Linked DNA regions of Homo sapiens: region 2 is linked to region 1. The links come from fine-mapping of genetic effects on gene expression. A gene starts in region 1. The other region holds a variant in brackets. All regions are shown on one strand. Distances are between the middles of the regions. Region 1 holds the start of HPX (hemopexin). Region 2 overlaps TRIM3 (tripartite motif containing 3).

Evidence for each region.
Region 2: its variant is fine-mapped to the expression of HPX in whole blood (TOPMed, PIP 0.97).

Annotation. Positions count from the first base shown.
Region 1 is chr11:6,439,607-6,442,515 of GRCh38, forward strand. HPX (hemopexin) reads right to left here and starts at 1,381. Exons shown (of 10, transcript NM_000613.3): 1 at 1,275-1,381; 2 at 1,066-1,124; 3 at 861-932; 4 at 559-680. The coding sequence starts at 1,357.
Region 2 is chr11:6,463,101-6,466,009 of GRCh38, forward strand. It overlaps TRIM3 (tripartite motif containing 3), which reads right to left. Exons shown (of 12, transcript NM_033278.4): 2 at 2,465-2,632. The coding sequence starts at 2,595. Among named protein-coding and RNA genes, the nearest start is that of TRIM3, 9.4 kb to the right of the region's middle. The variant A/G (reference allele first, on the strand shown) is at 1,339.

The DNA.
Region 1 (2,909 bases):
TTGAGATAGAATGAGACATTTGAGAAGAGAGAGAAAAGAGGCAGGAGGGAAAACAAAGCCGACAGTCAGGACTTCCCCAACCACACAGCACCTTTGGCAAGGTAGGAAAAGGCACCCCTTCCTCTGAGCAGACACAGCCTGGGTCACATGGGACTTGGTGAGCACAGCAGACTGGATTTCATGCTCCACATGCTCTTCTAGCCAGGTGCCATTGTGTTGGGAACAACTTGCCTTGCCCTATGAAGAGGACTTGATACAGGGTCATGGAAGGCAAGGGAAGCAATTGCCAGAGAAAAAAAGGATGGCCAGCAGTGTGAGGTACAGCAGAGCGGTGTAGAACTAAGACTAGGACTGAAGAACAGCCACTGGATGGTGCACCTGCCAGGCCCACACGCATGCACACTCCCTTAGCCCAAGCTTTTACAGGAAAGGAGGGCACATGGGAAAGAAATCTGCTACCTATTGCTATGGGCTCCATGCCAAGGCCATTTGGGGGAAGGGTCCCCAGTGTCGATTCCAGCCCTTTCCAGCCTGGCCCTGATTTTGGCCCAGCAGTACCTTGATCAGAAAGACACTGTTGTGACCTTGACGGAATGCAGCATCCACAGGGCTGGGGAAATTCTTCCATCTCTCTGAGATTAACTCCCGGTCCCATTTGTGACTCTTCCACACAAACTCCCCTGAAAAAACCCACACTCACTGAGGGGCCCAGTGAGAAACCTTTGACCTACTGAGATAGCTTGAGAGAAGCTGTCAGTGATACCATCAGATAATTCCTAAGACCTCCCACAGACAGGGACACCCTTTGTGAAGGAGAGTAAGTCTAAGGTCCTAAACGCCCTAACCTCAGTCCCTCCTACCTTTAAAAAACAGCATGGTTCCATTGTCATCCAGGGTGGTAGCATCAAAGCTCCAGCCATCTGAGCAGCGTTCTGGGGTGGAGGTAGGGAGATGGCAAAGTAAAAAAAAAAAAAAAAAAAAAAAAAAAAAAAAAAAACCAGAAGGTGATAAAATGCAGAGACACAACCAGACAGATAAGACAGACTTAGGGAGTCAGGGCCTCACCAGTCACGTCTGGGTCTGGCTTGGTCTCGCCTTCAGCAACATTCCCATGGGCACTAGTCCTAGGGAGAACAAAATAGATATCTTGATCCATTGGGACCGATCCCTTTCCCATAGCCCCTGACCCCAAATTTGACCGAGGCCTAAAAACTGGCCCTACCTTACCCTAGCCCAGAACTCAATCCTTCGCTTCTAGTCCCAGCTTTACTCACGGAGGAAGAGGGGTGGCAATGGCCAGAGACCAGCATAGGCTCCACAACCCCAGTGCAACGGGTGCTCCCAGTACCCTAGCCATGCTGAGCTGCAGAGGCCACAGGACAGCTCTGGGTGACCAGTTGAACTCCCTATATAGAGTTGGCAGCAGCACCACCCCCACCTCCAACTCTACTGGGAATGTGCTGTCTCCCAGGACTAAGCCAATATTGGCTGATTACATCACTGCAAATAAGGTCAGGGTCTGGACAGAAATCTGAATCCAAGACTCCTTTTTCCCGGCAGCTGCCCCCCAACCCCCTTCAGCAATTTTCAAGCAGTAACTGGGCTACACTGCTGACGTCCAGCTGTGACTCTCACACTGGCAATGGGTCCAGGCATCCATAAGTCAGGGAAGTGAGTAGACTGAGGATCACCTTTTGTGATTGAGTTTATCTCCACAATGGGGGAGGTGAGAAAAGGAGGGAACTAATATTGCTGTGTACTGTGTCAAGCCCTGCTCTAAGGCAGCTAGAGACAGCAATACTTACTACTTTTAGTAACCACACACACAGATAAACTTACTTAGAAATACTCAGAGAACAGCTTTTTCCAAGCTTCATCAGGGGCCTTTCTGGGGCATGCCCAAGCCTCTTCAGCTTTACCCTTGGGCTAGTGAGTCTGGGGACAATAATGTCTCACTGTTGTCAAATGTCCAAGCCCCATGCCCAGCCTCTCGCCTTCCCTGACTGGCAAAGGGCTTTGCAAAAAGTGCCTGGAAGTGAAGGGTTGACAGTAATGAGGCAGAAACAGGAGGTGTCTCTCTTCCAGAGAGCACCACCACTACTAGTAATTAGTCTTTCTTGGTAGTTTCCACCTTGGGGGAAAAAGCTTTATTTAACCAACCCAGAACAAATAGAACTGTAACTGGAATTTCACAATATTTCTAGCTGACTCCTGCTTAAATGCTACCTTCTCAATGAAGCCTTTCTTGACCACCTTATCTAGCCATTTCAGACCCTTGCTTGTTTTATTTTACTTACTAAAACTTGAAATTCTTTCATCTGTCTACTTATCTGGTGATGGTTGTTGTTGCTTTGCTTTGTTTTGCCTGTCTTGTTTACCATTATATATCCCTGACTCCTAAAATAGTGCCTGGCATATAAGAGTTGTTCCAGAAATATTTGTTGAATGAAAAAAATGCAAAAATGCATTTCAAGTACTGAGTAGTGTTGCTAGTGTTGCAGCCAAATTTCTGACAATTTCCCCCCCTCTAGGGTAGGAGAATATTAGGAATTGGGGGTAGGTTATGGTAGTAGGCATAATGAGATCTAGGAGTCACAGACGCCCTTTATCTGACAGTCCTGTTTCTCTCTCCAGTGTCTCGGCCCCACATCCATCTCTTCCTGGGATCTCACCTGCTATCCTCAGTACTTCCTGGGCCCACTCCCAAAGCTGCCCCATTTCTGTGTGAGATTTGCCTAGTGAGTCAGAAAAGAATTATGGGCAGACTCAGCTATGGGCCAGGATGAAGTTCCAGGACCCCTGCTCCCTAGCCAAGGCTGAAAGGGCCCTGATCCCTCACAGATGGCTCCAGACCCCTGACAGTCCCATATATAATCTTACCAAAAGTCTCAGATCCCTTTTCTACTCTG
Region 2 (2,909 bases), 23 kb after region 1:
AGGCTGAGGCAGGAGAATCACTTGAACCCAGGAGGCAGAGATTGCAGTGAGCCAAGATGGCGCCACTGCACTCCAGCCTGGGTGACAGAGAGAGACTCTGTCTCAAAAAAACAAAAACAAAAACAAAAAACAAACCAAAAAAAATTAAAATGAAAAGTTACATTAAAAAATTAAAATAAAAAAATAAAATGAAGTTAATAAAGTATCTGTTGCAGGGATTAAGGAAATCAGTATGTATAAATCACTTAGCCAGTCCCTGGCAAACAGTAAGCAATCAATACATGGTAGCTACTGTTATTACAATTTCTCAGCCAGATTTTCTCCAGGAGTGCTCAGTGATCTGGGCACAGGAGAAAGTGCAGAGACATCCAATTTCAGCTCTGATCCAACATTGAGCTTCTATTGCATGGGTTTTGCAAAGGATAAAGATGTGAAGGAACTGCAGGGGAGCCAGTCGGTCAGCCACAGGGTCCAGGATGGGCAGGAAAGACAGGGAGGCCAGGACGCAGCTGGTGACTGGGAAAAGAGGGAGCAGTCAAAGGGGCTAGATATCTATATTGTATCGAAAGTGGTGTAATGGGAGTGGGGTAACGGGAGCCAGGAGTGGAACGTTGGCGTTTATGACTACAGATAAGATTCTGGATTATAAGATTCAGGGCATGGTTGGGAGGGAGTGTTACTGAGGTGGAATGGGGGACAACCCTGAAGAAACAGTTAAGAACCAACAGGCACAAGAGGGTGGTTGTCCCCAGGCTGACAGAAGAACTTGAATGGACAGGAAAACTGAGGCCATTTCCAGTTGATAAAGGAGAGTGGGCAGTGGAGCTGGAATCTCAAAGAGCAGGGCTGGCAGGGAAGCAGTATCTCTGGTGCAGAGCCAGGTTTCCGTTGGGGCAGAAGGCAGAGGAAAAGTGCGGATAGAGGCAGTGGTGGTGAGAAGACCTAGGGACCAGGCCACCCAAGACAGAACAATGAGAGATAAGGGCCCAAGAGAATATTGTCAAAATACAGATGTGATCACATATAAAACCCTGCAAAGGCTTCATGTGGCTCTCAGGGTAAAGGTGAAATTCCCTAACAGGTCTACAAAGCCCTAGGTGGTCTGGCCTCCACCTACCTCTCCAGCTTCATCCCATAATACTCTCAGTCACACTCACTCTGCTCTAGCCCTACCAGGCTTCCTCCAGGCCTCTTACCTGACATATTTTCTCATGTCACATGAGCTTTTCCAATGGTCTTTCTTCTGTGCAGAATGCTCTTCCAACCCCCTTTACCTAGTTAACTCCTATTCATCCTCTGAATTGCTCCTCAGGGAAACCTTCCCTGATTCTCCAAACT[A/G]TAACAGATTCCATATGCCAATCTCTCATAGCTCAGCACTTTATTTGCAGCACTTACTAAAAGTTATATTTATCTATAATCTGGCTATATGATTATTTGATGACTATCTTTCTCTTTCACTATACTGTTAGCTCTTTAAGAGTAAGCATTGTAAGTGATGGATACCTTAAATACCCTACTTGATTGTTACCCATTCTATGCTTGTGTAACAATGTATCACATGTTCCCCATAAATATGTAAACTATTGTGTATCAGTTTTTAAAAAGAGTAAGCACGGTAGCTCACGCCTGTAATCCCAGCACTTTGGGAGGCCGAGGTAGGCGGATTGCCTGAGTTCAGGAGTTCAAGAACAGCCTGAGCAACACGGTGAAACCCCATCTGTAATAAAATACAAAAAGTTAGCTGGGCGTGGCGGCGTGCGCCTGTAGTCCCAGCTACTCCGGAGGCTGAGGCAGGAGAATTGGTTGAACCTGGGAGGCAGAGGTTGCAGTGAGCCGAGATCGTGCCACTACACTCCACCTTGGGCAACAGAGCGAGACTCCATCTCAAAAAAAAAAAAAAAAAAAAAAAAAGAGTAAGGATCTTATCTGTTTTTGCTCATCACTGCATACCCAATGCCTAGAACAGGGTCTGGCACATAGTAGTTGCTCAATAAATGAATATTTGTTAAATGAATAAGTGATCCATAGAAGCCTAGAGGCTGGGACAGGTTGCCTTTCACTCAGTACCTGAGGACAACAAGGACAAGCAGGGAAGGACAGACCTAACTTCAAATATCCTCCAACTAGTCATAAATTGCTGATGCCAAAGCTGGTTGAGTCTGAGCACTGTTTGATTTCTTAGGTGGTGTCAAAAGCTGCCTTGAGGTTTGGGAAAGGACAGAGAAGGCCCTATTCTTGACAGGAACCATGGCCCAGTGTTATGGTTCTTATGGTTCTCTCACAGGTTCTTGCCCTCAAAACCTCATTTCCTGCAGGTTGGGGTTCACCTGCTCTCCTCCCAGGTAAGCATGTTGCCTCACCTACTACAGGTTTACACATGCTCCCTCACCCTCCCCACAGGGGAGGAGGATCCTCATCCTCCCCACAGGGTCCTCATCCCTCCCCAGTACACACATCCCCTCACCTCTCACAGAAGGTGTGCAGGCAAGGAAGAACCTTGGGGCACTGGTACCGATCCAGGCAGATGCTGCATACCAGGAACTGCTTGTCCATTGGCTGGACCTCTGGGCCAGGGCTGTCCTCCCTCTTTGCCATGGCGCCCACAGATGGCTCCCGCCACTCACACCAGCCTCTGTATGGAGAGATGGTCAGCACCAGGGAGTCCAGAACTTCTTCTCCCCACCCAATCCCCGCCACTCAAATCCCCTGCAGAGAACTTGCCCCCACCTCTTCCCTGCTAGGGGCAAGACAGGGCAGTGACTGGAAGGATCAGGGTGATGTGACCTCTGAGCCTGGTGTTCTGTTTAAGAGCACAGACGTAGGATTAGATTGGGTTTCAAACCTGGCTCAGTCTCTCACCAGCTATGTGAGCTTGGACAATCCATGTAACTTCTCTGAGCCTCAGTCTC